Linked DNA regions of Homo sapiens. The protein of the gene in region 1 purifies or fractionates together with the protein of each later gene. This does not show direct contact. Each region holds a gene or a part of one and is shown on either strand. Other genes may lie near its edges. The genes, in order: HECW2, DDX24, AVL9, EIF3J, SH3BP1, CKMT1B and ALKBH5.

The links.
Region 2: the proteins of HECW2 (region 1) and DDX24 purify together in Homo sapiens (affinity purification with mass spectrometry, with the first as the bait; one large-scale study listed by BioGRID). This does not show direct contact.
Region 3: the proteins of HECW2 (region 1) and AVL9 purify together in Homo sapiens (affinity purification with mass spectrometry, with the first as the bait; one large-scale study listed by BioGRID). This does not show direct contact.
Region 4: the proteins of HECW2 (region 1) and EIF3J purify together in Homo sapiens (affinity purification with mass spectrometry, with the first as the bait; one large-scale study listed by BioGRID). This does not show direct contact.
Region 5: the proteins of HECW2 (region 1) and SH3BP1 purify together in Homo sapiens (affinity purification with mass spectrometry, with the first as the bait; one large-scale study listed by BioGRID). This does not show direct contact.
Region 6: the proteins of HECW2 (region 1) and CKMT1B purify together in Homo sapiens (affinity purification with mass spectrometry, with the first as the bait; one large-scale study listed by BioGRID). This does not show direct contact.
Region 7: the proteins of HECW2 (region 1) and ALKBH5 purify together in Homo sapiens (affinity purification with mass spectrometry, with the first as the bait; one large-scale study listed by BioGRID). This does not show direct contact.

The regions. Positions count from the first base shown.
Region 1 is NC_000002.12:196,321,055-196,324,554, forward strand, and holds part of HECW2 (E3 ubiquitin-protein ligase HECW2), read right to left. Parts: intron 1,567-3,500; coding exon 1,424-1,566; intron 1-1,423. UniProt on the Homo sapiens protein: E3 ubiquitin-protein ligase that mediates ubiquitination of TP73. Acts to stabilize TP73 and enhance activation of transcription by TP73. Involved in the regulation of mitotic metaphase/anaphase transition.
Region 2 is NC_000014.9:94,057,203-94,060,702, forward strand, and holds part of DDX24 (ATP-dependent RNA helicase DDX24), read right to left. Parts: intron 3,412-3,500; coding exon 2,896-3,411; intron 696-2,895; coding exon 620-695; intron 1-619. UniProt on the Homo sapiens protein: ATP-dependent RNA helicase that plays a role in various aspects of RNA metabolism including pre-mRNA splicing and is thereby involved in different biological processes such as cell cycle regulation or innate immunity.
Region 3 is NC_000007.14:32,571,989-32,575,488, reverse strand, and holds part of AVL9 (late secretory pathway protein AVL9 homolog), read right to left. Parts: intron 2,380-3,500; coding exon of another isoform or gene 2,291-2,379; coding exon 2,071-2,290; intron 1-2,070. UniProt on the Homo sapiens protein: Functions in cell migration.
Region 4 is NC_000015.10:44,554,147-44,557,646, forward strand, and holds part of EIF3J (eukaryotic translation initiation factor 3 subunit J), read left to right. Parts: intron 1-406; coding exon 407-521; intron 522-3,342; coding exon 3,343-3,500. UniProt on the Homo sapiens protein: Component of the eukaryotic translation initiation factor 3 (eIF-3) complex, which is required for several steps in the initiation of protein synthesis.
Region 5 is NC_000022.11:37,638,256-37,642,468, reverse strand, and holds the start of SH3BP1 (SH3 domain-binding protein 1), read right to left. Parts: upstream 2,801-4,213; 5' UTR 2,682-2,800; coding exon 2,623-2,681; intron 1,344-2,622; coding exon 1,301-1,343; intron 1,096-1,300; coding exon 991-1,095; intron 638-990; exon of another isoform or gene 1-637. UniProt on the Homo sapiens protein: GTPase activating protein (GAP) which specifically converts GTP-bound Rho-type GTPases including RAC1 and CDC42 in their inactive GDP-bound form.
Region 6 is NC_000015.10:43,592,661-43,596,826, reverse strand, and holds the start of CKMT1B (creatine kinase U-type, mitochondrial precursor), read right to left. Parts: upstream 2,801-4,166; 5' UTR 2,609-2,800; coding exon 2,460-2,608; intron 2,133-2,459; exon of another isoform or gene 1,949-2,132; coding exon of another isoform or gene 1,856-1,948; coding exon 1,657-1,855; intron 1,454-1,656; coding exon 1,358-1,453; intron 972-1,357; coding exon 750-971; exon of another isoform or gene 749-749; intron 621-748; coding exon 535-620; intron 420-534; coding exon 296-419; intron 1-295. UniProt on the Homo sapiens protein: Reversibly catalyzes the transfer of phosphate between ATP and various phosphogens (e.g. creatine phosphate).
Region 7 is NC_000017.11:18,207,828-18,210,454, reverse strand, and holds the end of ALKBH5 (RNA demethylase ALKBH5), read right to left. Parts: intron 2,237-2,627; coding exon 2,059-2,236; 3' UTR 501-2,058; downstream 1-500.

The DNA.
Region 1 (3,500 bases):
CCTTCCTCACCTGTAGAGTAAGGAGGCTGGAGCTGCTGGCCTTCCCTGCTGGGAAGCCTGGCCTATCACTGATTCTCAGGGTGCCTTGTAAGCAGTGCTGATGGGATGGTTGGCAAAGCCAGATGTGCCCCTGTGGTGGGGTCATATCCCAGATCTGGAAGCAGGTTTAGTTTTTGCCTTGCCTGGGCCCCGGGCTTGGACTGTCTGCCTCCTGAAGGATGGAGTTTTCCATCTGTTTCAAGTCTGTTTCTTTATCAAAGTCAAATGCAGTCATTTCATTTTCCTGCACACAAGTAACAATCTTATTCTGAATTAAATGACTTATTCTTTTTCTCTCTTTTTTTTTTTTTTGAGACAGAGTCTCGCTCTGTTGCCCGGGTTGCCTAGGTTGGAGTGTAGTGGTGCAATGTTGGCTCACTGCAACCTCCACCTCCCGGGTTCAAGCAATTCTCCCAGCTTCAGCCTCCCAAGTAGCTGGGATTATAGGTGCCCGCCACCACACTCAGCTAATTTTTTTGTATTTTTAGTAGAGACAGGGTTTCACTATGTTGGCCAGGCTGGTCTCGAACTCCTGACCTCGGGTGATCTGCCCACCTCGTCCGCTCAAAGTGCTGGGATTACAGGAATGAGCTGCCGTGCCCGGCCAACTTATTCTTAATTAAGGAAAATCATCAAAAGGATAGTGCCAAATCACTCCACCTCTGCCCTCTAATGGCTATTTCAGAAGGAAGATACAATGTTTCTTCTATCTACTCTTTGCTCCACTGTACAGTTTAGAGCCTCTAGTCAGCTATGCATTATTAATTTGCATAACTTGTTTTTGGTCTTCTCTATCTCCTCAGTATGACTTACTACTTTACTCACAACTTACAAAAAGCTCACAAAAAGAAAATAGACATTAATTACACATTAAATTTTAAGAGAATGTCAATGAATAAATTTTAGTTGCTTGAATGAATGTATATGTCTAGGAGCTTTATTATAACACTTCTTCAAGTCTAGGTCTCGTTTTAAATGGCTCCAAGACAAGATTGTTTCCGTTTTTCAAGAGTAACAAGTTCTCTGGATGGAATTATTTAGGATAAGGTAGGCATCAACCTGATCCAAGAATTCTGCCCCAGGGAGAAGTTTTTATAAAAAGCTCCAATATACTGAGAGACAATCAAACACTATGAGATTTGACACTGAAATATTAACAGTGGGTACATCTTGGAAAAGATAAAGACGCAAAAAACATATATAATTAAAATAAACTACTTTTTTGTCAAGTACATTTTAATAAGTGTAAGGACACTTTTATTTTTAAAAGAATTGTGTTACTACTTCTTATCAGTATGAAAAGTCCTAGGACTACCAAGTTTCATGTCATTTTTTCCTATATGAACTAATCTCAACAAGATCCCCAAAGGTAAGGGCTGATTACCCGATGGCTTGTCGCTCCAGCAGCCTCTGGACTGGAATGGTTAGTTTCCCCAGAAAACGCTTGATGATGGGACGGCTCTTGGCAAATTTGTCTTTAATTTCAATTTCTAAGACATCAGTAAGAAGTGCAAAAAAGGAATATTTCTGAAAACACAAACAGATAACATGCTGGTTTAAAAGAAAGACAAATATGATACTATATCATTTTATTTGTATAGGAAATGGTATCTCTTAAATTCTAACAACATACAGAGTTCCACATAGCTAGAAATAGCTGCAGCTATTGTCAATCCTTTATTCACTCAGAATGATTAGCATTCACCATGATTAAAAAGCAGCAGTCAAGGATCTGTATGACAAAAGAAGCCCTCTCAGTCAATCATGCAGCCCTTCCTAGTTTCACAGTTTTAGGAGATGTTATCAAATATTAAGTTATGCACAATGCAATTTTAGTACTCCCTACATTTATTGTATCTCAATTCTTTGATATTTAATATCTTGTTATAGAATGGATTAGAATTAACTAGTATATTTGATTGACAATTTGAATTCCTAATCTCATGAAATTCTGAAGTTGCAAAACATAGTTGAAAATACTCCTCCACTTAGTGGTTAAAATAGGAACATCTGCAGAATACTGTGGTTTCCCTGATAAATGTTAAAAGAATGTTTAAATGGAATTTTTCCTTAAGTTTAAAAGGCATACAGGGTCATTTCTTCTGGGACAGAAAAATAAAAGTATGAGGTTAAGATAGCTTTTGTTGTTTTCATTTTAAGAATGCCACTGGGGAAATTTGGATCGGACATTAATAAGGATATAAAATAAATATGAAGAGCTTTACTCACAGAGACTTTTACATATATTATCTTCACTTTATCTTTACAACGATGTAACTTTCTTTTTGAAGATGAGAATCTCAGGATAAGTAAATGATGGTGCCAGGAATCTAACCTAAATTATTTCACTGCTTCCCTGACAGTATCCATGCAACTATAGTGATGTGAATAGTGTTAGCCAACTTTTCACTTAGGTGCCTCTAGGTTTATCTAGTCATAACAATTAAGGTTTTCCAAAGGGCCAAGCAATTTGGCAGTCTGCTTAATGGAAAAAAGTACTTGCTTAGAATAAAAAAGCCGAGTTTAATCCCCACTTCTGTCTCTGAATAGCTAGTCCCATAAACACTTTAAGCTTCAATTTCTTAATCACCAAAATGAAGACATAATAATCTCATCCTTCGTGCCTCCCTTTCAGGCTTGCACTGGTGACATGGTCAAAAACTTTGCAAATTTAAAATGTTAGGAAAATAGTTACTGCTTGTTTCATTATCATATCTATTATGTGCTTTCTAGAATCATATTGAGATATATTTTTATTTCTTCTAGGCTTTGAAATGCATTAGACTAAGTGGCATGCCCTTAAGAGTTTTTTTTGTTTTTTGTTTGTTTTTTTTTTTTTTTTTTACCATGATGAGATCATTAGTAGTTTCTTAAACCAAGTGTAAGAATACAAGCAATATTCAATATCTAAAACCATAGGAACTGCCCAGGAGAAATGCCTTGCTGTGTTGGCAAGTCTCAGATAACTATATCTTTTCTGCAATCGGTTTTAGATCCCCTGATATACCTCTCTCCAATTAAATATTTCTACAATATTGTTAGAACATATTGTTGTCATTAAATATTTAGGGTATGATCTAATTAACTGTGTAACTCCTATGCCAGCCCAGAAAGATTTTCACACTAGTTATGTAAAACATGCCTCAGATCTCCAAGAAATGGAGGGAGAGCTCAAGCTTTGCTCACTAGATAAGAAGTGTCTATTTGTTCATTCTTTGACTTTCCGTAGTTCAAATGAGAAAACCCTTTGCTTGATTTCACTGATATGGTGCACTAAGATGACTGGTAGCATACTGTAGCTGTGAGGAAGTCTAAAATACCATCAACACAATCTGGCTTCACTCAGGATGATGACTCCTTGAATGGCTCATCTAATTAACAAAACTCTAGAAATTCATAAAACATTTGCCAAAGCCCGCAGAGAGAGAAATTCCTTTAATTTGTACTAAATGTATGCTACA
Region 2 (3,500 bases), on another chromosome or scaffold:
AGTCTGGCTCCGGTGCCCATACTCCTAACCAAAATTTTATGCTGATATTCACTAGATGCACACACTAATATTACTGCTACTATCAATGGCAGTTAACATGAGTAAGTGCTTGCAATGTGCCAGGTGGCTTCTTAAGCTCTTTATACTTAGTAACTTATTTTACCTCAGTAAGAACCCTAAGAAGCAGGTACTCACTGCCATTTAATACATGAGAAAACTGAGATACAGAGAGATTACATGACTTGTTCAAGGTTACACAGCTGGGATTTGAGCCCAGAGAGATCTAAACTACCACACTCTTCTATTAATACTTCTCTACATCAGGGTAACCAATTACATGCTTAACTTATGCCCATTTCACAGAAAAAACTAAGACTCTAACCTGACAATATCAAGTAGCTTGGAGAGAAGGGCTACTTGACATGAGACAAAGCAAGGTTTTCTGGAGACCAAATCTCAGCAGTGTTGCAAAAGTGGGAGTAGTGGGCACTCGATGCCAGTGGTATTCTCTGATGCAAGAGCCTTGGAACCAACAATTCCTCCTCCCTCCCCCAACCTTTGCCTTAAAAATTCCCCATTCAGTGCAGGCAGATGCCTATAAATTTTCAGATGCCCCTACCTGGTAATGGATGACATGCTGGACTTTAGGAATATCCAGACCCCGAGCTGCCACATCTGTTGCCAAGAGAACACAGCTGGGGTAGAGAGAGAAAGCTTATTAATAATAACTAACAGCTATCTTTAATCAAATTCTTACCAACTGCTGAGCATCCTAAACATTACAGTCCTTACCAATACTCTGTAAGATATCACTTGTATACCCTTTTACAGAAAAACTGAGGCTCGGAGAGATTAACTTCCCAAGCTATCTACATGGCTATTCAGCTGTGGAGTCTGGATCCAAATTTGGGACTCATTGACCCCAACCAACATGCCATACTCTGCAATGATAAAGACTCCCTTCAGTGAGTTAAATGAGGCCATACATATTCTGGGTCAGTGACTCCTCTCCTAGCACCCTCTCATTTACTTCCTCCCAGTGGCACACAGACTTCCTTGCTCTTCCCCAAACAAACCAAGCATGCTCTCACCTCCAAGCCTTTGCACTTGCTACTCCTTAAGGCCTTAAAGGGTCTTGCCTCAGATGTCCATATGACTCACTTCATTACTTTCTTCAGCTCTCTGCTCAATTCTCACTTCATCAGAGACTGACCACACATACCCAATCTCTTTTCTCCAACCCCTGCTCGACTTACTTCTTAGGATCACTTGGCAGACTGTGGGCTTACTTTGCAATTTATTATCTCCCTCTACTAGAATGTAAGCTTCATGAGAGCAAGGACTTTGCATTACTCACTGCTGTTATTACCACCACAGAGAACAACATCTGGTTCATGGTAAGCACTTGATAAATGTGTTGGATGATGTTTCTCAATGTGTGGTTCATGGAAAGTCAAAAGTACTTGAGGTGCTTCAAAACATAAGACTCTGGCCCTTCAGGGTCCTCACTCCCTGCATGTCTGAGCTGAGGCCGGGAAATGCAATGCAAATCCTAGTTTGTAAAACATTAAACTACTGCTCTGGATCAAGGTCAGCAAACTTTTTCTGTAAAGAGCCAGAGAGCATTTCCAGCTTTGTGAACCACACAGTCTCTATGGCAACTATTCAACTCTGCCGCAAAAGAGGATATTGACAATACATAAATGGGTCTTGCTGTGTTCCAGTAAAACGTCTACTAAAAAAACAGGCAGCAGCCAGGTGTGATGGCATGCACTGGTAGTCCTAGCTACTTAGGAGGCTAAGGTGGGATTGCTTGAGCCCGTGAGTTCAAGTCTAACCTGGGCAACATAGCAAGACCCCATCTTAGAAAAAAAAAGGGCAGCAAGCAAGATTTGGCACGAGGCCTATAGTTTGCCAAGCCTTGTTCTAAGCTAATCTCAGTAAACCACTGATACTACTTACCAATTTTTAAAAACCAGTAAATCAAACACTTGTTCTAGAAACTAATTACCCCATGACCTGACAAAACACTGGCAAAAGACACTTTGTAGTCTGCCTCAACTTTCCAGGCCCTCATCTTGACAATCTGCACCCCATTCCCTGAGCATCAGTCTGGTCCAAAGGCAGATGGACAAAGACATCAGGAATAAGAAATAGCATGGGCTCTGAGGTCCGACAGGCTTGTCTGAGGCCCAGCTCTACCACTTCCAGGCAGAGAAACCTTGGGCACACTGATCAGCTTTTCTAGACCTCATTTTTCCATCTATAAATGAGAATAGTGATAATGGTAATAAGTAGTAAAGGGACTAGAAATTATTAAAGCTAACATTTAGCAATATATACATACTATGTGCTAGAGACTGTTCTAAACACTTTACACGCATGAATTTACAATCAATCTTCATAACAACCCTAGAATGGGTTCTATTATTATCCAAATAATGAGAAAATTAAAGTACAGAGAAATTAAATAACTTGACCACCTAAGGAGTGACAGAACTAGGATTTGATTTCAGGCATTCTGGTTCCAGGATCTGTGCTCTTAACCATGAATCTATTCTGCTTCCTCTTAAGGATGTTAGGAGAGTAACTGAATGTGATTCTGAATCTAAAGTGCCAGCACAGGACCTAATCTATTGTCTATACATTCAATATTATGTATTGTCACCTATATTCATTAGTATTGAAGTTTCTGTATGGCATTTAACTGCAACCAAATTCACTAAATGACAGTAACCTTGCCAAATGCTGTGCAAAAAAAAAAAAAGGCTACCTACTACTGAGACAAGGCCCCTATGACAGAAGGTGGCTTTTCTACCATTTCCCCACCATCCTGACCCCTTTTACCCCAGTAACTAACTAGAGGTTAAGCCTCTGGGGACAGTCCTAACTTACTCTTCCAGACGGGCAAACTGCTCCAGGTTTCTGAGCCTCTGCTTCTGGTGCATACAGGCATGCAGGGTCAAGGGCATGATATCAAGGACTTTGAGGAGCCCAGAGAGGCGTTTGATGCAGGAGATACTGTTGGCAAACACTAAGCTGCGGCCTGGATACTGCATCAGGAAGTAGTACAAGTAGAAGTCTTTCTCATCAGTCTCACAATGGATCTTGGTCTCTGTTAGCGTCTCCACCGTGGCCTCATTCCTTGTGAGGTCAATGACCTTGGGCTTGCCCCTCATGCCAATTTTCTGCATAAGGAGGTCAAGTTTGGCTGTTTTATCCATTTTCTTGGTGTGCTTCTTATGAAGGATTCGAGCAGGAGCCTGATGCACCAGGGTGAGTGTGGCAGAAAAAACAAGCGTTTGTCTCTTTGGGTTGTATTGGGAGTCATTGAGCATCTCTAGCAGCTGTGAGAGCTCAGCAAAATGGCCTTTCTCAACCATCCGGTCAGCCTCATCCACTACCAGGCACCTGCAGATCCAGAGAGACCCATATCATTGGTCAGCAGCGGGTTAAGAGGAATCATCTATAGCACACCCTACACTCATCCTAAACACACA
Region 3 (3,500 bases), on another chromosome or scaffold:
CTTTCAGTCATGATGTTCTCTCCTTTGGACTTTATTTGGTGTTTCATTCTTGAATTTCCTAGCATTTCACTGTCAAAAACACTTAAAAAAGGCCAGGTGCAGTGGCTCATGCCTGTAATCCCAGCACTTTGGGAGGTCGAGGAGGGCGGATCACTGGAGGTCAGGAGTTCGAGACCAGCCTGGCCGACATGGCAAAACCCTGTCTCTGCCAGAAATACAAAAATTAGCCAGGCGTGGTGGCGGGTACCTGTAGTCCCAGCTACTCGGGAGGCTGAGGTAAGAGAATCACTTGAAACCAGGAGATGGAGGTTGCAGTGAGCCAACATCATGCCACAGCACTCCAGACTGGGCAACAAGAGCGAGACTCTGTCTCAAAAAACAAAACAAAACAAAACAAAAAAAGTCTTAAAAGAATATACTGAAAACTGATAAAGTTTTCAGCTTTATCAATACCATGGGAAAGCATCCATATGTGTTTCCTCCGCTTGGAAGATTAGAAATGGTTTGGAGAACTGATACAAATGGCTATTACTTCATATATTAATTGCATGTTGTTTACTTTGAAGGTGAAATACAAAGTACCTTTTGTTGCTAGGAAAGGAAATGAATGAGATACACAGTTCCATACACAGCATAAAGAAGTTGTTCTAAGAACACTTCCTCAAGCAGTTCATTGGGCTGAATTTCCTCTTTTGACCTTGTTACTTGTAAGAGTATGGGCCTAAGCCAAACTGTTTGGGATCAGATCCCACCTAAGCCTCTTATGAACCTCTGTGAGCTTCATTTTCTCTTCTGTAAAAGGCAATGACAAGGTCCCTACCTTCAGGATTGCTGTAAGGATGAAATGAATTACTAGATGTAAAGTGCTCAGAACACTGGTCCCTGCATATATTTAATGTTCAAAAAAAAAAGTGAGCTACTATTATTCAGTGCTTACAGCCTCCTGGGCAAATATTTTTAAAAAAGCAAATTAATTAATTTGCTTAAAAGCAAATTAATTAAGCTACATGGCAGTGGAGACTGAAGTTTTCTTTCTAGATTACCAAATGATTTGGGGTTAAAGGATTTAATTTTGGTGTCTCAGCTGCTACATTGTTAGTGGTGGCAAACATTTAAAAATATCTCATTAACAAACGAGGGCTTGTTCCTCAGCTGTCTTTTACAAATGAAAAACTCTCCCGAAACCTACTTTAAAACTCCTATGTGCACTGTAAACAACTAACCTGGGAGCATGTGGTGGTGGTGTTGATTAAAAAAATCTACTGATACAACAATGAATGTATCTAATGCCACTGTGGAACTGTACATTTAAAAATGGTAAAGATGGTAAATTTTATGCTATGTGTATTTCATCACAATTAAAAAAATAATGGTTAGTTAACTGAAACAAAAACACAAGCTCAACACATTTTTAACAACTCTAATAAATATCTGCCAAATGTCCAAGGTGAAAAGCTCACTGCAGAGCTCCATTTTCACTATTTATATATTTCTTTCCCAAGGAGAATGAGATAGTTTTAATGCAGGAGTAACTCCATGTTTACCTGCTCCATTTTAACCATTTAATACGAATAATAATATTTCTTAGAATGGGTTATAAATTTGAAGATTTAATCATTTACAACACGATTTTCAATGATTTCTATTTTTTATATTCTTTCTCCCTTTATACATCTTAAAAAACATGTGGCAGTATTCACAAACAGCTGCCAAATACTGATGAATATGAAGCAGTCATGTAAAAGTGATGATATATGTTCATGTTATGTTGGTATGTGTTGTTTCTATTATAAAGTAATAGTTTCAGAAAACATGTATAAAGGGATCCATTTTTGTAAAAGGACCACCAAAAGTACCATAAAACCAAAATCCAAAATACATGCATAGGAAAAGATTTGCAAGGCTATAAAGTACTAAAGACGTTAAAAGTGGCTATCTTTGTATGAGGGAATAACTGGTAATTTTTCTATAAGGAATATGTATTTATTGTGCAATCCAAAATCTCATAAATGTTACAAAATGAAAAATTATAATAAAACAGGTAGCTGTAGGCTCCGTGTGGTTTCTTACCTAATTGCAGTGTGGCAGCCAGCAGGGCATGAATGTAGACCGCAAACTGGGCCCGGATCCATTCGTCACCTCCCTCCCAGCCCGTGCCATCTAGGAAGACGTCATCCCGATTCTCAGTCACGTGCCTCACTAGGTAGTCTGCGAACCTTAGGTCTGCAGTGGTTGGGTTAAGCAGCTTCCTGAGTTCTGGATCATGGATCTGGATCAGAGCTTCTTCTACCTAGAGGGTATCCAGGTACAAGTCAGAGTCTGGGCATTCACGCAGACATCCATGCCACACTTTACAGAGTAACTACGGGGAAGGTGGAGCTGGAAATAAAAAATATGAATAATGGCATTCTCAAAAGGTGAGTCTAAGAAAGAGGTTTGTACACTGAAGTTTTCTTTCTATTTATAAAATGCTCATTTTCTGTTTTTAGAAAATACACACATAAATATAGTATTTTAAATTACAAAATTACTCACCTAGATTGCAAATATTTGGGAAAATATAGAAATACATGTAAAAATCACCTTTATTTCACTAGCAGAAATGAACACATTTAACAAGTATAATTCCTTAAATACTTTTTCTTTTGCGTGCAGATACTTTAGAATATTCTTTTTTTTTTTTTTTTGAGACGGAGTCTTGCTCTGTCGCCCAGGCTGGAGTGCCATGGCACAATCTTGGCTCCCTGCAAGCTCTGCCTCCTGGGTTCATGCCATTCTCCTGCCTCAGCCTCCTGAGTAGCTGGGACTACAGGCGCCCACCACCACGCCCGGCTAATTTTTTGTATTTTTAGTAGAGATGGGATTTCACCATGTTAGCCAGGATGGTCTCGATGTCTTGACCTTGTGACCTGCCCACCTCGGCCTCCCAAAGTGCTGGGATTACAGGCGTGAGCCACCATGCCCGGCCAGATACTTTAGAATATCTTATTATGTAATATTTGATATACTAAAAAATACATGTAACTTACAGGTTAGTTTTGAAGTATAATAATAAAAGAAATTCCTACGAACCCACCAACCAACTACAGAACTAGAATGTAACCAATAATGATGAAGCAGCTTTATGGTCCTCCCATCTGTATCCTCCTGTCTTGGAAAATGTATATACTTTTTCTTCTTCAAATTTGGGATTATAATAAATACATCTTTGAATCCTGGACTTTCATTATATTATAACCATTCACCCAAGAAACATGTTTTCATACTTTCTGTCAGAAACTACAAAAACCTCAGTGTGGCTGAATTTTTTTTTTTTCTTTTTTTTTTGAGACAGAATTTCACTCTATCGCCCAAGCTGGAGTGCAGTGGCACGATCTCGGCTCCCTGCAACCTCTGCCACCCGGGTTCAAGCGATTCTCCTGCCTCAGCCTCCCGCGTAGCTGGGATTACAGGCACCTGCCACCATGTCCAGCTAATTTTTGTATTTTTAGTAGAGATGG
Region 4 (3,500 bases), on another chromosome or scaffold:
TGGGCGGATCACTTGAGGCCAGGAGTTCAAGACCGGCCTGGCCAACATGGTGAAACCCCATCACTGCTAAAACTACAAAAATTAGCTGGATGTGGTGGTGCACGCCTGTAATCCCAGCTACTCGGGAGGCTGAGGTATGAGAATCACTTGAACCCAGGAGGCAGAGGTTACAATGAGCGAAGATCATGCCACTGTGCTCCAGCCTTGGTGGCAGAGTGAGGCTCTGTCTAAAAAAAAAAAAAAAAAAAAAAAAACTAAAGTGTTTAGAAGAATGCCTGAAACAGTAATTACCAGTGTTCACTTTTATTTGTTATTATATACGCTTATTTAAGAATTCGTACAATACAGAAAGGTACTGAGTGCATCATAATCCCTGTGCTTTTTAAAAACTTTTGTCTCATTTTAGTTAGAAGAACCCGAAGAACCTAAAGTGCTAACACCAGAAGAACAATTAGCAGATAAACTGCGGCTAAAGAAATTACAGGAAGAGTCAGACCTCGAATTAGCAAAGGAAACTTTTGGTAAGACGGGATTATGATTGCAATACAGTATTAAACTGTTACAGGTGAAGACCCAGAAAGTTCAGAAAACATCTCCTTTTCTTAAAAGAAACATACTGGCTAATGTAGATATTAGAAAGCAGTTTTTAATCTCTGTGTATATTTGAGATTTCATTACATGTTCAGATTTTTGAATAATTGTTTTGAGTAAAAGATTATTAAGATAAGTCATTTATAGCAATGCAAGAAGGGCAAAAAGGAGTAGACTCAGATGAAGTACACTACTGCATAGAATATTTTTATCAGCTGGATGAAATTTGCATGAAATGTGAGGTCTGTAGCTTTGAAATGGACTGTAGGGCTGTCCTGTTGTCTTAAGACTTAGACAGTAGGATGTTGCTCCAGGTGAGAGGCATGCAGCTTTTGCTGTGCCTTCTTGTGCTCAGTGTCATTTCCTTCTGCAACCCTTCTTTGCCCTTACCATGCCCTATCTTTAGAGGGCCTCCATTTCTTTGTGCGGTGTCTGCAGCTGTGGTTAGTGCGTGAGATAAAAGTGCAGGATCCTATAAATAGATAAATTCAGAGTGTTCCAGAGTAAGAGACATGGCTAGAGAAATAGTCAAAGCCCTCGCTTCATTTAACCAAGTTATCGTTACCTGTTGAGTACTTTTCAGAGTAGAAGATCATGTTGAAACAGTTAAATCACTGAAATTTATAACCAAGAAGGAAAGCTCTAGTTATTCTGATACCCCTCCCCCACTTTCATACTTTCTCTACTCTGAAACAGATCAACAGGCTGACTGTAGTGATTGTTTTCCTTTTCATGAGGAAGTATGACCTTATCTGTCAGTGGATCTGTACAAATACCAGGAGTTGATGTGAATGCTCCTGTGCACCATTGTATGCTTGGCAGGTCTTAACTGCACTCATCTAATTATAGAGAGCTCTTGGCTGTTAATATGTGTCTTCCTAGGATGGTAAAAGCTGCCCATGTGTTTATTAAAGAGGCAGGTTTATGAAGTGTGCATAAAGCCTAGCATGGGACACCTGTTATAGACTAAAAGGTAAAAACATGCATTCATATAGTCATTGTTAATAGGATTTTACTGTTGTGTTTCTCATACTAAAATACCACATGTAATATTGTTAATAACTAATCTACTTGACATGGAGGATACAGAAGCATACTTATCTTAGTGTAAAACTCATCTAGGCCAGATTTTTTTTTTTCTAACAGGGTCTGGCTCTGTCATCCAGGCTAGAGGACAGTGGCTGAGATCGGCTCACTGCAACCTCTGCCTCTGGGCTCAAGCCATCCTCCCACCTTAGCCTCCCAAGTAGCTGGGACTACAGGCGCATGCCACCACGCCTGGGTAATTTTTGTTTTTTGGGGCTTTTTTTGTAGATACAAGGTTTCACCATGCTGCCCAGGCTGTTGTTGAAGTCCTGAGCTCAAGTGATCTGCCGCCTTGGCCTCCTAAAGTGCTGGGATTACAGGCATGAGCCACCATGCACAGCCTAGGCCAGATTTCTTCTATTGGGATTTAACATGTTTACCCCCGCTTAGCTTCTGGAGTTAGACAAATACTTTCACAGGATCCATCTTTGTTTCTTATTCTTTTTGTTCCCTCTCTCCCCACTTTACTGTGGGGGTGTTCTTGGACAAGAACAGAGTATCCCTTTTGTAATGTAATATGTTGTGTTTTGTTTTTAGAGAAAGGTTCTTGCTCAGTCATCCAGTCTGGAATGCAGTGGCATGACCATAGCTCACTGCAGCCTCAAACTCCTGGGCTCAAGCAATCCTCCCACCTCAGCCTCCCGGGTAGCGAGGGCTACAGGTGAATATCACCACACCTGGCTAATTTTATTTATTTTTTTGAGACAGAGTCTCACTCTGTCACCCAGGCTGGAGTGCAGTGGTGCAGTCTCGGCTCATTGTAACCTCCGCCTCCTGGGTTGAAGTGATTCTCGTGCCTCAGCCTCCCAAGTAGCTGGGATTACAGATACATGCCACCACCATGCCTGGCTAATTTTTGTATTTTTGGTAGAGACAGGGTTTCACCATGTTGGCCAGGCTTGTCTCTCGGACTCCTGACCTCAGGTGATCGGCCTGCCTAGGCCTCCCAAAGTGTTGGGATTACGGGTGTTAGCCACTGCGTCTGGCCACACCTGGCTAATTAAAAAAATTTTTTTTGTAGAGATGAGGTCTTGCTGTGTTGCCCAGGCTGGTCTCAAACTCCTGGCCTCAAGCGATCCTTCCTCTTAGGCCTCCCAAACAAAACACTGGGATTACAGGTGTGAGCCACTGTGTCTGGCCTTGATATATTGTTTTTAAATGAATAAAATACTTATTTATAAAGAAAACCTGTTATATATAAATAGATGTCAAAATACTAAAATGACAAATTTGTGATACAGAATTATATGCTTCCTTATCGATGCATTAAATCAGGTGTAGTGGCACGTCAAATAATGTCATTTGAGAGTAATTATGACTGAACAATATTAATATTGTAAGATATCTGTAATGGCAGGAGAGTGTGATCTCTCCTGGTAAGTCAAGTTTTGCTAATACCACTGTGATTTGTTGCCAGTCAATTGAAACTGAAGGAAATGCTGAATTAGAGGTTAATAAAGATGTAACTTTTTTTCTGATTTAAGTTTGTAACCCCCCTCCCCCCTCACCCAGCCATTCTATCCAGTGACTCCAGTGGCTCCAGGTTCAGAGCCCCTGCTTTAGAATGAAACGACAGGGTTATTCAGATAGCTATTGGCTTTGTAAGGTTTCATTTTTAAAAATCCTAACCTCCTGATACTTTTCAGTGCTTCTTTTCTCCTACAGGTGTTAATAATGCAGTTTATGGAATAGATGCTATGAACCCATCTTCAAGAGATGACTTTACAGAGTTTGGAAAGTTACTAAAAGATAAAATTACACAATATGAAAAGTCACTATATTATGCCAGTTTTTTGGAAGTCTTAGTTCGAGATGTGTGTATT
Region 5 (4,213 bases), on another chromosome or scaffold:
CCTTGGGGCAGGGGAGGAGGGAACCCAGGAGGGCCACAGTCCCAGATGAGAGTGGAAACAAGATGACAAGGCGTGGTGGGGGTGACATTTCCCTGAGAGCATGGATGGAGCCCCTCTCCATCTGGCGTGCCCTTTCCTCTTCCCAGAAGCCACTTGACTGGGCAGGAAGGAATGACCAAGTCCTACTGCAGACTGGGAAACTAAGATGCAGGGAGGGCAGGGAGCTTGCCCCAGGTCACACAGGTGGAGGGAGAATGGGAGCGGGAGCTCTTTCCCCTGTCCCAGGGTATATATGGCTGACCTAGCCACCGCTGAGTTCAAACGCTCTATGGCTCCCAATTTCCTTGCCTTGGCCACACTGAATTGTCAACTGATTCCAAAACATGGCCCCACACTCCCACCCCATCTGGAGTTACGGGGAATGCCTGCTCTGGGATCAGAGACCAGGGTTCAAACCTCAGTTCTGCCACTTACTAGCTATGTGACCTTGGACAAGTGACTTTATCTCTGAGCCTCCAGTTCCTCATGTGTAAAGCAATGCCTGCCCCTAGGGTTGTGCCAGTGTTCCATGAGACAGTGCACTCATATGTTAGTAACAAGCTGGCGGTTATCAGCCAATAAACGCTGCCTCTTGATTAATAAACGTGTATCCCTCAAAAGCCAGCTCAATTGCTACCTCCTTCAGGAAACCCTCTGAGGCCGCCCCATTGACAGCCTGCTCTTGCGCACTGATTGGACAGAGAAGTTCAGGTGCTGTCAGAAGCCTGGCCTTGGCTTATGGGAACTGGTGCACAGGGAAGTGGGGTAAAGGTGATGGGGAAGGTATAGGGCCTCTTGAGTGCAGTGCCAGAGGGGCCTTGGAACAGAGCAGTCTCCATGCCCTTGGTGCCAGACACTCAGACTGGCAAGGAAACCCCAGCCCCGACCTTGCTTCCCCATTGGATGGAAGTCTCCTGCTCAGGCCCCTCCTTCCCGGGACCCCCCACTCACCACCCGCTTGTCCATGTCTGCCCCGCTCTGGCCCTGCAGACAGGCCTGCAGCCGCTTGTGGATGTTGTGGGCTGCCCGCTTGGCCGGCTCCAGCCGCTGTTCTACCTGGGAAGGAGGTATGGAGGTTAAGGATCAAGAGAGGCTGTCTCCCCCTGAGCAGGAAACTTTCTCCTGTCCCCTGGGGACCCCATGGCCAACAGCTTGAGGAATGACTCAACCCAGGCCCCTACCTGGCGTCCCCGCCCCGGCCCTCTGCTCCGAGACAGCCTGCACAGGCCTGCCTTCCCACCTGCCCGGCCCAGGCACGTACCTGCAGCAGGTCCTCACCCAGGAACTCAGCGGTCTCCGGGGTGCTGCGGGGAGTGGTGGGGGGGGGGGGGAGAGTGCTTCTGCTGAGCCTGCCTGGGTTAGAACGCCCCCTACTTCCCTTCCCCGCAGCAGGGCACCTGGACCCCAGTGCTTCCACTGTCCCTCCCAGCTGAGGCCTGCCCTGGGTGGCCCAGTTGCTTCATCCCAGTCGGAGCACATTCCATGGGGGTGGGAATAGGATACATGGGTTTTTCCTCCTCCACCCAGGGCTGTGTCCTGAGAGAGGGCGGACAGATGAAACTAAAGGGGAGGCTGAGAGACCCACCCGGGGCCCAGCTTTGGGACACAGAAGCCTCTTTTCTGCCCACTCCCAAATCCTCAGCCCACCCCGGGATGAGGAGTATTAGCTGGCCCCAAGAACGGGAAGTGCAGGAGCTCAGACTCCTAGGCACAGTCACACAGCACTCTGGACTACAGCTGTGGGCAGGGGTGCACAGGCCCTTGGCCCCCACCTGGGGACACATGGGGGATGCCAAGGCCCACTGCAAGGTGGTCTGACTGTCCAGGCTATGTAGGCATCTGTGCCAGTGTGAGACTAGAACCAGGTCTCTGGACACCCAGTCCCCTCCCTGGACCCAGAGAATGGGGAACTCCTGAGGCTGGGGGAAGAGGAGCAGAGAAGACAGGCTCTGAGAGGCTCCCCAAACTTCCGGCCTCCGTGCCACCGGCTCAGAGGCTGGGGGTGGGAGCTGGGAGACCTGGGGATATTTCCACCTGAGTCCAGGAAAAGCAGAAACGAGACAGAAGCAGGAGGCCCCTGGGCTGGGGGGAGGGGGAGGGGGAGGGACGCTGCAGGCCAGGGGCAGGCCCCTCCTCCCACCAGGCCAGGACCCATCTCCTCCCCTCGCCCCAGGTCTGTGGCCCTAATCGACCCTCCTCCCTCCCCGGCCCAGCAAGCAGAGGTGGTGAACTGTCCCATTGTCCAGAGGGGACAAGTGAGGTCAGGAGGACCATCCACTTAGAGACTCGTGGAGGCAGAGAAGTCCCAGCGTCCTAGGGCAGAGAGCATTCTCCCGCCTGAAGCCCCCTCCAATCCGGTAAGGGGGGGCATCCCTTCCCCCAAAGGCCACCCTTGCTCCTCCAGCTCTGCCCGAGAGACGGGGGCGGCGTTCAGAGAGGAGGAAGAGAGAGCAGGAGTCTGGCCGCTCAGAGGGTGGCTGCCCAGCTGTCCCCAGCCTCCCCCACCCCCGTCTCCCCCGACCCTTTTACGACCCCTCAAGTCCTGCCGGGGTAAGAGTGGGGCTGGAAGCGGGTGACACTCACCGTCCCAAGCTGCCCGTCTGGGCCAGCTGCCGCATGCGGTGCAGCTGCCTCTTCATCATCTTGGGGGCGAGCTGGGGGCTGCGGGGTCACGGCGGGGGTCGCGGGCCCGGGGAGCCCCCGGTCCAGCCTGCCTCTCCTGCGGCGCGGCTCTTGCCCCGGATGGGTGGGCGGCGCTCTCGCTTCCTGGGCCGCCGCGCGGCTCTTGCTGGCGGCCGGCTCTCTCCTCCCCCGCTCACGACTCCGCCCCCGGCCCCCAGGTCACTCCTCTCTCCAAGTTGGTTTCCTCGCTCTTCCCCGGCTTCCGGGCCCCCGGGCGACCCCCGGCCGGGCCCCCGCTGCTGTGTGTCCGCCGGCCGCGGCCGTCCACAGGTTGTGCCCGGCTCCTCCTCCCCGCAGCGCCCCGCCCAGCCCCGGTGGCGGGAAGCAGGTAAGCCCATTCCTGCCCCTGCGCCCGCAACCCGCCCCAGGCGGGGTGCCTGCCCCACCCGCAGCCTGCAGACCCGAAGTATAAATAACCTTTGCATCCCTCGCAAAGAGGAAAGGGTACCAAGCGAAAGAGGGGTAGGCCTTTCTGACCTGTCCTGGCCTCTCTGGGCCTGCCGCGGATACTGCCTTGCACTCTCTTCCGCAGAGGACCTCTGGCCCCCTGGAACTAAACCCCCCACCACTGGATGACTGGCTGGGAGCTTTGGCTTCCTGGGGCCACGGGCTGCTGTGTGGCCGTGGACAAGCCCCTGGAACTCCGGACTCGCTGTTTCTAATGGTCTGATGGGCCAGCTGTCCTGGGCCTGCCCATTCTGCAGAGTGGACAAGACACCCCTGCCAGCTCCCTTTAAGGGAGGTGCGTGCCACCCCTCAGCCACCAGGAACCCTCCCAGAGCGGTTCGCGACACCCTGTTCTCCACATCTCCTGGCAGTTTGCTCCATCTGTGAAGCCCGTCTCCTCTCATTCCTCCTGGCAAACAGCCTCAGTCCCCCTTCCTTCTTGTAGGGCAATGATGTAGGTGCTGCTCTGACTGCCCCCAAACTCAGTAGTTCTCCTCTTTGGCCCTCCACTCAACACAGAGTTAGGCATACAGTAAGTGCTCCATAACTGCTGGTTTTACAAGATGTGAGCGCCTTTAGGAAACAGTAGGCTCTCCTTACCCTGCACCCCTGTGGCATCAGGAGCCGCAGGCGTGGGGAAGAGGGGAGGGTGTGCCCCAGAGTCCTGCCACACCCTCTGCACTTTGCTTTGTTAGTTTCAGTTTAGTTTGAGACTATTTGAGCCACTACTGTGTGCCGGTGCAGACTGTGTGCCGGTGCAGACTGGGCGCCTCTCAGAGGCAGGACCTTGGCCCCACACATCTCCATACTCCCAGCACCTAGCCCAGGGCCTGGCACACTCACTGGCTGCTTCTCTCCTCCCTAATGAGGCAGGACTCATTGGGGGTGGGAGGAGCTGAGAAGGGAACCCAACAGCTGCCTGCTATGGCCAGAGCCTCCCAGATGGGAGCCCACCTGAGTGTGGAATCCTGGTGGGAAGTTGGGAGGCTCCAAGATCAAAGCTCAGGCCAGGATGAGATGTCAGGCAAGGTTCCCTCCCCCATCT
Region 6 (4,166 bases), on another chromosome or scaffold:
GGCACTGACGTGCCATCTCATTTATTCCTTCTTTGCACTCTCTGTCAACAGCCTTGTTCACTTCCTAAGATTCCTGACACTCTTTCTTTTCCTAATCTTAGTGTGACCACATGTCCTGGTTTTCCCAGTATGGTCCCAGCTGGTTTACACCTTTAGTCCTGGAGTGAGTCCTAGATAGTCCTTTTTACTATAAGACATGTCCTGGGTTGGTTGGTAAATTACATAATCTATTTATGCTACTCTTTGGTTTTCCTTATGTCCTCCCACCTAGCTCCCCTACATAGTCTTCTCTAACCTCTTTGAGGCCTCGGCAGAATCTTTCAAACACTCTCTTCATGTTACCACCCTTCTCCATGGAGATCACCCGTGTATGATCCTCCTCATTCACCCAGATCAGGAAGCTCTTCTCATTGTTGTGCCTGAGGGCCGGAGAGGGACAGTGATCAAGAGGCAAGGCAAGAATTGGGAGAGATAGAGGGAAAAAAAGCATTTATGAGGGCATGAAGACAAAAGAGGTAATGAGCAGCTTCATACCAAATTCCACGAGCATCTGGCCAGTCTCGAGCCATTCCTGCTGCAGTCAGCAACGGGGACACAGGCTTATCAAACAGAAAGTGGTCCTGGGAAGAGTAACGGGACTTGGGTTAAGAATCTTCATGGTGGCCCCTGGGCCTTTCAGAGCCCATGTCTCATCTGGCCCAGCCTTCCCCATCTGCTCCCACCAACCAGCACCCTCTTAAGGCCCTCACATCAATAAGCTGCTGCTGTTCAGCCTCTGTCATCTCACTGAGCCTATAGTAACGTCCAGCCAGGTCACCCTTCAGGCCACTCAGTGCATCCACCACAACACGTTCCACCTCTCGTCGCTCTGCTCGAGTGCAAGCTGGAGGCAGACTGAGTCCTCGGATGCTTCGGCCAGTTCTGACTCTAGAGGACAATACATACCTCTCATCAAAGTAGCCAGAACGGATCTGGGAGATAAGGGAAATGAATGTAAGTCACAGAAACACGGTGGGAACTGAGGGCCCCTGGGAAAGGAGAGACCTTCCTTAGGCATTAGAGGACTCTTTGTGCATTCTTCCTGCATGCATTGGAAGAAGAGGCCCTTTGGGAAAGCACTGGAATTGAAGGGGGCATTGCAGACCTTTCCCCAAACCACCCACCTTGGGTCATGGTCATTCTTATCTATCCTTCCATCTCCATATATGCTGCCCCTTAAGATATGATTCTTTCCTTACATTAAGATTAAAAGCTCAGCTGTATAATGACCATGAGTCAGGAAATAAGGTGAAGGGGTTGGAGATACAGAGTGTTGTACACAGGCAATGCAAATCAGAAGTGGGATATTTGAACTCACTTTACTGGCATCTAGATCCGTGGTGTGCTTCATTGTCCGGGGGTCATATCCATTGTGTCGCTCTTGGATCACAGGGTCAAACAGGTCAGCAAATACCTAAGGGGAGTTAAGAGGGAGAGATGGTTAAGGAGAGGGAATCCCTCCCCAGACTTCAATTGTGCATTGATTTCACTGGTTCAGAAAACTTAAGTATGGGGGGCTCAGAGTCTTGGGGGAAAGTGAGAGGTCTTTAGGGGAAAGGAGCTGGGATTACTGGGAAGATGAATTGGATCATCAGGGAGACTCTGGGGACCCCCTACCTCATAGGTCTCCTCATCTCCAGCCACCATGCCCACAGTCTTGATGAAGGGGTGGCCAGGGTTGTCCACGCCAGTCTGGATACACTGATCTAGCGTCCAACCAGTGGGTGTGGTCTTGTCGCAGAGCCGTGCATAGACTGCTGGGGTCAGGTGACTGGCCATGCAGTTGTTGTGCTTTCGGAGGTCTGGGTACTCAGCGCTGGGGAGGGGGTACCCAGTAACCATGGAGGGAGGGCACAGACGCCTAGACCTAGTGCAGTTACCTGGGAGCTGTCCAGTTGGCCATGTCTGGCTTTGCTCCGCGGGAGGAGGGGGAATTAGAAAGAGGGTAAACCTTGGTAATCTCTTTAGGGACTTTCAGAGTCTATGCTTTCCTAATAGTTCTAGTTGCCTCTGGCTGGCCAGCTCAGTTTCTTCAGATCTGCTCAGTTCTTTCCTCCCATGACACAACACTACGGATGGAGGAGGGGAAAAGCCTAAGGAGAGGAATTGAGGAAATGAGGGAAGGAGATGGAGGGGAGCGAAAAGGATAGTTCCTGGCTTTACAATTAGGGATTTGGGCAGCCAGTGCAGCTAGAACTCGTAGGGCCAGAGCTGGTCTTGGCAGGTCCCCAGGAATGTTCTTGCTTTATGGTTTTGGCCCCCACCCCCACCCCACTGAGGTCTGCAGACTGCACAGCCCTCCAGCTCCAGGGCCTTCGTGATTATAGCCCTTCTCTGTTGCCCGGATTCTCACTTCTACCCGCACCTTCGTTCCCATCACCTCCTGCCCCCGCCTCCTCCCGCGCCTCAGGCACTGTTACCTCGGGGGATACAGCCTCCGTCGTTCACTGGCAGCTCGTACAGGTTCCGGTCGGAGCAGAAACCCAGCGGCTAGAGACCCCGCTCCGGCCAAAGCCAGGAGCCTGAGTCCCGGGCGGGCGGACAGCAGACGGGAGAAGGGACCAGCCATGGCTTGAGGTCTGGCTACGGGATCCTGGAGTAGGCGCTGGCGCAAGATAAGATCCGGAACAGGGAGGGAGGATGCAACCGGATAGACCGAGGGCCGGAGCTAGGTCCGAGGCTGCAGCCGAAATGGGGGTCGGATTGGAGGCTGGAGCCGGAATGGGAGCCGGTGCCAATCAGACTGCAGGAGAGGCGCAATGAGCTAGTGGCAGGCGGGCGGGCGGAGGAGAGGGAGGCCCCAGCCGCAGTCTCCAGGGGTGGGGCTCCCCCAGGCCCCGCCTTCCCGCCTGCCACCGCGCTAGGTGCGCGAGGGCAGGGGTGGGCAGCACCCGCCAGGTAATTAGCGGGACCTGAGACTCGCGCGTCTAAAGCCGGGGATGTAGCCCCCTCCCGCCCCGGGGATGTGGCCGCCCAGATTTCAGCACCAAGTGGAGGACAGCACCCACGTGGACTAGCTGAACCCAACACCCTTCCCCCACACCCCTCGGTTTAAGCTGAAACTCGATCCGTCTACCCTGTGGGTGTGCAAGGGTGACACTGCCCAACCTTTCCTCTGCTTTCGGCCTGCCCCAGCCACCTCTTCGGTCTCCCGGGGGCAGCCGCGGGGAAACCGCGGAATAAACACAGATACCAGAGGAGGATATGGAGAAAGCACAGGGTTAGAGGCAGGCACTGGGAAAGACACCCACTGGCTCAAGGTCACCTTTTCCTTAGAACCAGGAAGAGGAGCAAGGTGCTTCCTTGCCACCTCTGTGCACGCCTTACAAAGTTGAGAAAGGACTCCCTGGGAGGAACCAAGGAAATATTAATTCTTATGCCATCTGTGCTGTGTCCTCCACCTCCATTCTGCACCCAAGTCTGAAGCCCTGTTATTTCCTGCCTCTGCTTCTCATGATCCCCCACTTTTTGTTTTCCTTTTGTCTCTCCCACTTTCCTCCACGTCCCCTACCTCACCTTTGATCTTTTACTTCTCTGCGTCTTTTCCAGGCTCAGATGTGTTTGCTGCTCACAGGATGCCCTCTGCGTTTTCTCGGCAAGCTTGCCCACCTGTTGGTGGTGCTGGGTGTGGGGGTGGGCAGGGAATCGTTAGTTTCCTCCTCCTCCTCTCCCTTGGCTTCTCTCTCCGTAGTTCCTAGTTCCTGTGCTGGAGGAGAAGGTAAAGTGAGGTGAAGGGTGTGGTGAGATGACTGGGTGTGGGACTGGAACAGGCAGGCACAGGTCTCCAGACACCACATGTGTTTCCTCTCTTGTCTCCCTAATGCTGTTTAATCCAGAGAGTAAAGGCGAGTGGTGTACAAAGGCATGAGGTCGTCAGGGAATCTCTGCCTTCCTCGTGGTCCCCTCTGCTGCTCTCTCTCTCCTCGTGAAACACATATTCAGATTTGAGAGGGCTTTGTTTCCCAGCTCCAGGTATGATTTGACCTTTGTCCTGGTAGCAAGGAGAATGAATGCTAGAGTTGAAATAGAGATGAGGGGCTTCAGCGTGGAGGGTCAGTTAAGGTGGAGTAGCACCGTGGCATTAGTCCCTTCCCTCTGCTATCCTGGTGTACCCACAAGACAGATAC
Region 7 (2,627 bases), on another chromosome or scaffold:
TTAGTAGAGATGGGGTTTTGCCAAGTTGCCCATGCTGGTCTTGAACTCCTGAGCTCAGGTGATCCACCGTGCCTGGCCAAGTATTTGTTTAATGAGCAAAATCACTCGCATATTTTCCACAAAAGCCAGGTTCTCCCTTGCTTTTGTGCCTGCCATCTCCCCCTTCACCAGCACCAGCCTCTCAGTGATCATATCTAAAAGAGGGACTTCCAGAACTCCAGAAGGTGTGGTCCCTGGGCACCTGGACATTGTGGTTTATGAAGTTCACCCTCCTTGGAGTGGGAGAAAGGACAGTGGGGTGAGGGCAAGTCCACCTTCAGCCATAAACCCAAGGCTAGGCACACAGGAGGCCCAGTGTCCAAGACCAACCAACTCCTCTGGGACGCTGGCGGCCAATGAGCTAGCTCTGCCTCCCCAACCCCTGTTTCAAGTTTAAGAAAGTAAAGGGATTAAGGAAGCACCAAAGGCAAGCCCTCTCTTACAACAACATCAGACAACTGTTTCAAAATATATTAGATTTGGTTTTTATTGTAGAGCACACATATCAGGGCGAAGTGCTGCACACACAACTACAAATCATTTTTGGGAAAAAAGCTGTAAAAAAAATAAAACTGCAACTGCTTTAATTATGCAGTCCCGACTTGAGAAATCCACGCTGGCAAAGGAGTTCTGGCCCCTGAGAGGGGCTTCTTGATGGTGGCTGCCCCAGATTTCTGCAGCCTATGAGGTCTCAGACCCGGACCTCTGTACACAAAGCCCCCAAAGTGGTGGTATCCTGGTTGCTGGGAGGGCCTCTGCTCTTGGCAAGCCCGGGTCCTGGCCTGGCTGACAAGAAGACATTCCTAATGAATCTAGATCCACAAAACCTTGCTGCCTTCCAGGATCTGAGTGGATAGAAGCTACCAAAGACTTTACCTTTTTTTCCTTATTATTTTTTGAAAGCCCCTTCACCAACTCCCATACCCTGAAGCGGAGGAGGCACCAGCCCAGTCTGCAGGCCTGAGCTCTGGCCTTGGATGCATGCTGCCGGCAGACAAGATGGGGCAGGCGCCTTCCTAGAAGGATGACATGAGGATGAGGCCCAAGCTGGCCAGTGGAGAAGGGAAGGGAAAGGAAAAAGCCAGGAGACTAAAGGGGGAAAAAAAACTCAAAAAAGAAAACAAAAACCCTACCACACACCACAACAATTTTCCATACCCCAAATGCTAGACTTGGAAGGACACCAGTCCCTCTAGCTAGAAACAATTTCTAAAACTGACCCAACGTGGCAAGTCTAACTGTTCCAAATAATCACACGCATATGCTCAAAAGGAGCAACCAGCAAAGAAGTGTGCTCTTGATAAGAGAGGTCAGGACCACTGCACTAGCCCCTCAGCAGCCCAAGGAACTGTGGACATGGCAGGCTAGTGGGCGTGGGTGGAGGACGCCTGGGGGGCTTAACAATAGCTTTGGGATGGCAGGGGCTGGCACTGTTTAAGCCCCTGCCCAGGCAACCTGAACAACTCTGCCGCAGGAGGAAGAAAGGGTGTTTGCATGAGCTTGCAGGGCGTGGATGGCAGGTGAGAAGTGGAGAACAGCAGAGCCTGTGAGGCTCCAGGAGACCTCAACCAAGTGCAGACATCAGTGAGGGAAAGGGGCGAGCAGAAGACTGAACTTTGTTTAGAACACTGCGAAGATTTACACTGAAAGCAAAATAATTTTCTTAACCAAAACATTTTGTTGCTTTTAAATAAACCCAGCCTGATACAGCCCCACTTAAAAGATGGCTGCTCTGCTCCACCACCTCTACTGGCCACTCCAGCATCAGCCTCTGTCCCCTATTGATGCCAACAGCCTTTCCATCCAGGAGGAATACCAAGAATATGAGAACCTAGGTCCTGGCCAATTCTATTCTTCAGCCCTAACAGGCAACAAAACCAAGGAAAAATATATAGAATCAAAAAAAACAAAAAACAAAAAACAAAAACCCCCCAATGAACAAAAACAAAACCCTCAAAACAAAAGGAGGGGCAACTACGTAAGGATGAGCCAGAGTTCCCAGGAGGGCGGCGGGTAGACTCAGTGCCGCCGCATCTTCACCTTTCGGGCAGGGCTGCCTGCTGCCTCAGAGCAGTCCTCTGAGGACTCGTATGACTTGCGCCAGTAGTTCTCAGAGCTGAAGCTACCCCTCCGCCGGTGTGTGGGCAGCAGCACCGAGCGCCGGTTCTCTTCCTTGTCCATCTCCAGGATCCGTGGCCTGCAAGGAAAGGGAGGTAGGACGTTATCTGAGAGGCTGGCAGGAGGCGCCTGGCTTTACCGCTGTACCTCGTCTCATCCTTGGGATGGGTCACTTCAGCTCAGTGGTCCTCAACGAAGGGTAGTCCTGGCAGAGGCCCTGGTATCGGAGGTTCTTGCCCACTAAGTGCCAGTGACCATCCCAGTCTTTGGGACATTTCCCAATTACCCTGTGGGGTCTGCCTGGCTTGGAGTCTGGTGCCCTGGGACACTGCCAGGGCTGCTGGACAGAGGTCTTCCCTACCACAGCCTCAAGACTCTGCATGGTTCTGCCATCTACCTTTACTTCCCAGCTCTACCCACTTTCTCTCTCTTGGGCCTCCCAACACCCCCTTCTCCACTTACTAACCCCA